Regions from separate parts of the Homo sapiens genome. Here region 1 is linked to region 2. Evidence: fine-mapped expression QTL. Tissue or cell type: whole blood. Region 2 holds a variant in brackets; the other region holds the start of a gene. All regions are shown on one strand. Distances are from middle to middle.

The links. PIP is the estimated chance that this variant, and not a neighbour inherited with it, causes the effect.
Region 1: KBTBD11 starts here. The variant in region 2 is fine-mapped to the expression of KBTBD11 in whole blood (TOPMed, PIP above 0.99).

Annotation. Positions count from the first base shown.
Region 1 is chr8:1,971,635-1,975,848 of GRCh38, forward strand. It overlaps KBTBD11 (kelch repeat and BTB domain containing 11), which reads left to right and starts at 2,043. Exons shown (of 2, transcript NM_014867.3): 1 at 2,043-2,301. KBTBD11-AS1 (KBTBD11 antisense RNA 1) reads right to left here and starts at 1,711. Exons shown (of 3, transcript NR_136275.1): 1 at 1,514-1,711; 2 at 906-1,029; 3 at 1-723. It overlaps KBTBD11-OT1 (KBTBD11 overlapping transcript 1), which reads left to right. Exons shown (of 3, transcript NR_126346.1): 2 at 291-403.
Region 2 is chr8:2,018,941-2,023,154 of GRCh38, forward strand. No RefSeq gene overlaps it. Among named protein-coding and RNA genes, the nearest start is that of MYOM2, 24 kb to the right of the region's middle. RefSeq lists an enhancer at 2,492-3,481. The variant A/G (reference allele first, on the strand shown) is at 2,036.

The DNA of each region.
Region 1 (4,214 bases), 47 kb before region 2:
GGCTGTCTAGAAATTGGGTTCAGAGACCTCCCAGCCTGGAACCCAGTTTGATGGAGTCCCGCATTCAGGGGCCAGTAAACCACTGTACCCTGGACAACTCCATAAGCTTCGGTTATATTTTTAGGGCGGTTTTGCATGTTGAAATATTTGCATGCTTCGAGTCTACCATGCATGATCAGGCTGTCCCTGACCAGGGGAAAATTTACATAGTAAAATAGTATTACCCTTGAAATAGATTTAAGATAGGTCCTCCTTTTTCTTGACAGTATTACAACCCAGTTCAATTTCAGGAACTCTAGAGGTCCCTGCAGTTATGAAGAACTAATTAAAGGCATGAAATGTTCCTCTGCAAGTTTCATTGACCATATTGGGCCTACAGTCCATTTCCAAATAAATATCTAAGGTAAGAAAAATATGGGACTCCCCACAGACTACTTATCTACCAGATGGTGTGGGGTTTGGATGGATGTTTTCAGTTACTTCAGCAATTTTTTCATTAATTCAGTATTTATTGAGAACCTAATGTATGCCAAGCTTGTAAAATGCAGTGGGGGGTATGACCTATTCCCAGGTCTCTGGACTCTGGCAGAATGGTAGAGAAGATGCTGTCGGGCTTGCATGTTCAGAACACCGTGTCTTAGGTGACCTCCCGGGCCTTTGGAGGCCCAACCCCAGGGTGGCGGGATAGCCAGGTGAGGCTTTGTTTGGCCTGTTCACGTTTCTCTGGAAAAGAATGGGGGTAGTTAGGCCAGGCGCGGTGGCTCATGCCTGTAATCCCAGCACTTTGGGAGGCCAAGACAGGTGGATCACTTGAGGTCAGGAGATCGAGACCAGCCTGGCCAATGTACAGTGAAACCCTGTCTCTACTAAAAATACAAAATTTAGCTGGGTGTGGTGGTGCATGCCTGTAGTCACAGCTACTTGGGAGGCTGAGGCAGGAGAATTGCTTGAACCCAGGACGCAGAGATCGCAGTGAGCCGAGATTGCACCACTGCATTCCAGCCTGGGCGACAGAGTGAGACTCCATCTCTAAAAAAAAACAAAAGAGAAAAAGAAGTATTATTCTGCAGCCGAAAGGAAGTAGAGATGCACTAAGAAGATCACAGTAGAGTTTGGAACATTTTTGGAGTAAACTGAACAAAATAAAAACGGAGCAGCATGGGAATTATTTTAGCTTCCACCAAAAGGGTCTGTTTCTGCTATAGTTAACGGAAGTTTTCAATTTTCAAAAAATCCCAGTAGCTCGCTGAGTTTCAGCCTCCTGTAATTCAAGTACTGACAGCAGGTACTACTCTTCTTGGCAACAGAGTGAAAAAGGTTTTAAAGATGTTCCCGGGGCGTTAGCTTTGGTGCTGGAGTTGTAACGGCTCATTATGTGTATACAGCATGGAACTGGCAAAGACTGTCACAAGCAAAAAGAACACAAAAAGAGAAAGTAAAGGCTCTGGCTCTCGGTACTTATGGAAATCTCATCGTCATTAATTTGCACAAAGCCATTAAAAATAGCATTTACCAGCAGGGGTCCAGCGTTAATTAGAACCCAGCCTGGGAGCAGCTGGAACTCTCGGCGCTCCTGGCTCAGTCCTCGCCGCCCTGAACCCGTCTGCACCGCAGGGCCCGAGTGGGAGGCAGAGGCCACATTTCTGGATATGAGCAAAAGCTCCGACATTTCGTCCACTCTCGTGTTGTGAACTTTAAAAAATTCTGGAATCTGTTGAGAATTTGGCAATAAGTTTTTAACCACTAAATATGTCAACAACGCATCGCCTCTACTTTTACCAAAAAATAGGCGCACGAAACTCCGCTGTTTGCGCCCGCGGACACCTGTCCCCGCCTCCTCGCAGGAAGCGGCCCCCGCGCGTGGGCGCGGGCTCGGGCTCGGGCTCGAGTGGCGACGTGGGCCGCGGTCCTGGAGGGGGAGAAGCGCCCGGCGGGCAGGCGCGGGGCAGGGAAGCCCCGGGGAACCCACAGCCCCTCCGCAGACCCAGCCAGGGGGCGCGCGCCCGAAAACGCCCCGTGTGCACGCGCCCGCCCCCCTCCCCGCGCCCCGCGCGCGCCCCTCGCAGCCTGGAGCCGGAGCGCTGGCTCCGCGCGGCCTGGAGAGGCGGAGAGGCCTGTCCACCGCCCCCTCTGCCGCCCACGCCCCGCTGCGGGTCGGAGGAGCAGCTCCCGCTCGCAGGTGCTCGGAGAGGCCGGGCCGCGGCTCCCACAGGTGCCGGGAAGCGGCCGCGCGCATGCGCCGGAGCCCACCCGCCTGGCTGCGCGTCCCGGGCCCGGCGGCTGAAGAGGAGCCGCGGCGAGGTAGGGCGGACCCCGGGGAGGCAGCGGCGGGGCCTGGCGGGCGGAGCGGGAAGCAGCCCGAGGCGCGGGTCGGAGGGGGCGGCGGGTGGGAGGTGGTCGGCGAGAGCGGCAGTAGGCGGGAGGGGAGAAAAGGGGAGGCCGGCAGGGGAGAGGCGGGGAGGGGAGGCCGGCAGGGGAGGGAGGGGAGCGGAGCGGAGGGGAGGGGAGGGGGGACCGGGAGAGGAGGGGGCAGCGCTGCCCGCGGCGGGGTGGGCGGCGGTGGGTGGTCTCCGCTCCGCCTCCGGGAGGCCGCGTGGGGGGCGTGGGGGCCTCCTCGCGGGGTCTCCACAGGCCCTCCCCCGGGACGCGGCAACCCCGGCCGGAAGACAATGAGCCGCCCGCGCCGCGCCCGCAGTCACCGCCCCCGCCGAGGGTCCCGCCGCCCCAGCCGGCACGGAAGCAGGAGCAGAAGCCGAAGCCAAGCGCGCGGGGCCAGGGCGGGGGCTCCTCCCGGGGTTGCTCCGCTTGGCTCTCGGCGGTCGCGGGGATCGGCTGTCCGGAGCGAACGGGGGTCTCTCCTGGACTCGGGGCCCTGGGGAGGGGAGCGCGGCCCTTGGTCCTCCGCCGCTGCGCCCGGGGTGCGGGGGTGTCCTGGCTGCTGACCCCCGCGAGCCCCGAGCACCGCGACCCACCCGCCCCACCGCGCCGCGGCTCCCGAGTCCTGCCGGGCGCCCCTTGCAGCCCCCGCCCCATGTGCTGGGGAGACCCCCGGGCGGTCTGGGCGGGATTCCGCAGGGGTCCCTCCTCTCAGGCGGGGCTCATTCTGGAGCATGAAAAGAGGGTGAACCAAAGTCCCTCCACCTCTTTAGAGTCCTACAAAACCACGTTTCCCCCTCCACCCACTCCAGTGTCTATTCTAAGGAAAAGAAAAGGAACAAATCAGTGCAGCGAGCTTTATTCTACTCAGCCCACGAAAGGCGCCGCCGTCAGATTTTAAAGTTCCAGCCATCCCCTCAGGCCCTGAGTGAGAAGTTCGCCCGATTCCCCGCGGTTCCCGCCTCCATTTCCCACTAAGGAGCAGTTACTCAGGCTCCAATTAGGACCCCTTAATGGATGTCAATGGAACCCTTCAGCCTTTTATCCTGAGCTAATAGTGTGCTATTATTAGAATAATCCTCCCCATTCCTGACATCACGGAAGGGAGCGTTCCATTGCCTTCAGATTTGCTCCAGCAACAACCTCGTGTGTGCAGATTTATGGTAACTGGCATTGCAATGCTCCCATCAGGGCATAACTAAGTAAAAATTGTAATGAGGTAAAGCCTTTGAACTTTCCATGTCAGTTGCACAGGCATTGCTGGCCATAGCATTGGACAGCACATAATAAAATCAGTTAAAAGATGTTGCTTACATTATAGTGATGTGTAGCACAGCCACGTTCGGATCAATTACAGACCGCCAAGTTGACGGTGGTCCTGTAAGATTATAAAACTGTTTTCCCTGTGTCTTTTTCATGCTTAGAAATGTGTAGATACACAAACACCATTGTGTTACAATTGCCTGCGGTATTGTGCACGCTGCACAGGTGTGCAGTCTGGAGCAGGAGTCTGTGCAGTGGAGCACAGGTGTGTAGCAGGCTGCACCGCCTAGGTGTGTAGGTGCCCTGTGTGATGTTTGCACAGTGATGAAGTTATCTAACTATCATTTCTCAGAACCTGTCTGCATCTGAACCATTCGTGACTGTATTTAAGCCAGCATTGGGCTTGGGAGGAGGGGAGAAAGCTTAAATGTTGTGGCTCTGAGACTAAAGAAATTCCCAGGGAGCAGGACTCTGTGTTGACTGATGTCTGGGCCTAACTTGAACCTCAGAGCACCTTGCTCTGGGTGGATGGAAGAATCCGGAAAGGTGGTTTGGAGCTTATCGCATCATTTGTA
Region 2 (4,214 bases):
ATTACCATTTTATGTATTTTAGAAATGTTAAATATATTCTTCCACATAACTGTTAGCATTTTTTGGTGGGATATTTTATTGAATAACAATCCTTAATTGAATATCATTGAATATCAAATCCAATACTTTTTTTCCTGATGGTTTCTCTTTTTGGGGTTAATCATTAATCTTTTAACAATGAAAATATTTAATATTTGTTAATAGTAGTATGCAATATGTAAACTCCCTAATCTCTTAATTTATTGTCAAGATTTCTTATAAGAGGAAATAAGAATAGATTTTATATAAGAAACTCTGCCTCCACGCATGTTCTCTTAATATACGGAGGTGTACAAACCGCTATTCAAGTTAATACACAAATAAGTCATCAAGAATGTGCTATGTCCTACAACAGAAAGTTGTGGGGAGCCTCACAGCTTACAGTGAGGGCGCCTGGAGGAAACCCCGGCTGTCTCACATCTGCAAGTGAGGGAGAGCTGTGCTCTGACTGAAGAGAAGTGTCACATAAAAAGATGAAGACTTTTATTGTAGGAGGGACGTCAAATGAACACTTGAAAAAATGAATGTAAATCTTAAGTTTCATTAGAATACAGCATGTTTCCTTGCACTTACATATGGCCTTCAAAAGACAAAACCTAAAACAAGAATCAGGAAAAGGAATCAAAATTGGACACTAAACAGGACTGTCAACACCTAAGTCATAACCAATAGGTGGTGTCGAATTAGGATACGCTTGAGAAATGGGGTTTGAAAGAGAGTTGTCTGTGAGAGATGCTAAACAATAAACAGCACCAGGCTTATAAAACACCTTCCCAAATCACACAGAACAAAGCATCTTCTATGAATGGTGCAGGCTGGATGTCACAGCCTCCTCTTCCCCCAAGGCCTGTAAAATGAAGTCAGTTTTAAACTCGGAATTGAACATTGTCACACAATTTAGGTATCAGCTATCACTGACGGTGGGAGACTTCAAAATAATTTTGCACGTTCACAGACTTTATAGCTAATCCTGTGAGCAACTCGGCGTGTGGCCTACATACCTGTGAAGAATTGTCACAGTGATTTCCAGATCCAGAATGTAATTTGCCCAAAACCAGGCTTCCAACCTTGACACATTTATTCCACCCGTTAAACACCTGTGTGCGCATAAAGACATCTCGGGAGCTGTCGTCCCTCCATCAAATCACAGGCTCGGGTGTGACGGTGTGAGCTTCCTGGACTTTCAAGCAGATTGAGTAGCTCAGTCGGGGGGAGAAGCTTAGAGACGAGTGAGATTAAAATGTGAAGCTATTTGTTTTTCTGAAAATTTGATGTTACCCTTTGCAGCACAGTCTTCAAAGTTTCTTCTGCCTCCATGGCATAATTTGGAAAATCTCTGAAACGTCAAATGGTCCTAATGTAATTGACCTTACATACACAATCTAAGAAAAAATGTAATCTATCAAAAAGATACAGCCTGTCCATTAACAAAATCGCCATGTCGTGTCATCCTTCAAATACATGCAGAAGCCAGAACAGTCACATTTTCTCTTTGGTTTTAGACAACAGACCCTGCTGGAGTCATAATACAGGACAAGTTGATACAAAATCTATTTAATTAAAGTTGCCCTTTTCCTTGAGATGAATTTCCTGGGAGTTATGAGGTCAAGCATGGTTCCCTTTCCAGCTAAATAGCTGCCCAACAGCTGTTGCTATTTGGAACATGTTTACTCCTAAAACCGCTCTGTAGTTCTGTGGTTCACATGGTGTCTTAGTCTTGCTGACACTGTGGTGCTGTGTGGCTCTAACGTCAAATTCCATTGTGACTGAGGAATGAACTACAGGCCTTGTGCTTTCCTGACAGTCCCCTCCGAGGGGACAGAGTGCCACAGAGTCACCTAGAAACAGCCTGGACGGGCACAGATAGCAAGACGTGCACCTGCGCAGCCCGGGACTCTCCTAGCGGGGCAGGGCAGAGCCAGCAGGGAGTCAGCACTCAGCCTGCAGAGGCGCTGGGCACCGGACGCTGATGCAATAAAAGCACTTCACATTTTCT[A/G]TGGAAACTGGCTTTGGCAATTTCCATTTGTTTTCTTTTTCTGCTGTTCTGCCGCCTCCCAGGCCCTTTCCTTGTGAGGATGTGCAGAAAGGACGTCTCTGGCTCTCTGGCGAGCTCTGCACCCCAATGCTCCCCCCACCTTCCCTGTCACAGATCCCCCTCTGTGCAGACAGAGATGCAGAACACAGAACAGAGAGTGCCCATTGTCTTCCCCTGTGTGTAGAAGGGATGGGGACCAGGGATTGAGGACAACAGCCCATTCTCTGCACCGTCCAGACCTTGGAACCCGCTCCCTGTCTCCCCCGTGGCACTCAGGGAACACATCGGAGAAACTCTTGGTGGCCTCTGCTGTTTAAAGAGGTCATCGCAGTGAAGAAAAGAACATGAAGTTGTTAATTCCTTATGCTTTTTGTTAACTATTCCAGGATTTCCTTTGAAGTTCCTTTCTGTGTTCTTTTGAAAAGGTCAAGCTATGGGGCTGAGTGATTTGTAGCTGGAGTTGTGGACTCGTTCTGTGACCCTGGACCCTTAGGCATGGCTGGGCCTTCTGCCTCACTCTGTCTATCTGACTCCTCTGTCTAGTTAAATGGCTAATCATTCTCGTGGCACAATGCAAACGCTCCCCCGTTTGTCGTTTGGGTTGAACACATCAGATATTTGGATTCTGGGTACGGCTGGATAATATCAAAGCGTTTCTGGAGGTAATTCTTTCAGTCAGCACTGAGCTCTGGGTGTACAGCGGGGCAGAGATGAATCAGCACCCAGCTCCAGCTGTGCAGCCGGGCAGAGATGAATCAGCACCCAGCTCCAGCTGTGCAGCCGGGCAGAGATGAATCAGCACCCAGCTCCAGCTGTGCAGCCGGGCAGAGATGAATGAGATGCAGTCGTGGCTCATCCCACTGTCGGGGCGGCCGGGAACTGAAAACGACCCCATCCAGTGAGGCCCGGCAGGCATGGGCTGCTGGCGAGGGTGGCACCAGAGTTTGGGATGGAGCCGAGTTGAGGGGACCTAGGGAAGGCATCCTGGAGGAGGAGGCCAAGCCGAGAGAGCCTGGGATGCCAGGGGCTGTGAGCAGGGACCAGCCTGGCAGGGGTGAGGAGCATGGCTGAGGCTGGGGACCTGGAGTGGGCATCTCTGGAGATGCCAGGTGGGCTGAGAGGGAGGAAGGACAGTGAGGCCCAGTGAGACTCACCTAGCGTGTGCTGCACTGTGTGTGAAGCCACCAGACTTGGAAGGACCATCGCCAGCTGGGCCAGAGCACTAGGGACCTACTCAATGCCATGAATGTGTCAGGGTGGGTAGAACCAGGGCTACCTCTAGGCAACAATGCACCACGTCCTAGTACCCACAGCCAGGGGATCAGGGCCTGGGTAGCACTCGCCCAATTGACATGCGTGAGCTCTGTGCTCCTTCACCCGACATGCGCGGGCTCCGTGCTCCTGCACCTGGTGTCCATGGGCTCTGTACTCCTGCTGAGGCAGTGCTGGGCGTCGGCACTGATCATGGCCAAGGTTGGAGGAGGCATCTCGTGGGAGGCCTGCAGGTCCCAGGAGGGTGGAATCAAGGCAGCCAGCCTGAGCCCAGGGTGGAGGCTCTGCCTTCCCAACGGGGGCAGGACCCAGAAGAAGAGTGAGGCCACAGAGGCAGATCCTGGCCAGGCCCCTGGAAGACAGCAATGTGCTGAGAACCTTCCTTGAGAAAGAGTGGAGGCCCCGGTGACCACAGCATCATGACTGCTGAGGGACAGGACCAGAGAGTCTTCTTCCTAATTGCTCCCCTCTCCCTTTCTCCATTTCCCCATAAACCCTTGAAACAGAGGAGCCTGTGCGTGTGCTTGCCCTTGGGGCAGCCAAGAAGTGGCAGCAGAGAGGCCTGCCTTCCACAAGGCACAGCAGCAGGGACCACGAGTGACCTGGGAACACTGGCCCCAGCCTCCCTGCCTCCCTCTGTCTGCCCCGGCCTCCGCACCCAACAGTTGTGAGATGTCGGTGTTTCTGTTGCTAGGCATTCCTGTTGCTGCGCAGCAGCCGGGGCTGGGACAAAGGACTCGCTCTTCTAATGTTTAAAGCGCAAAGCGAACCACGTGTGGGCCCAGCCGGCCCTCAGGAGGAGCTCCGCGGCTCCTCCCATCTGACAACTCCCCCGACCTGCTGGGCACTGAAGCCTCTGCTGCGGGGG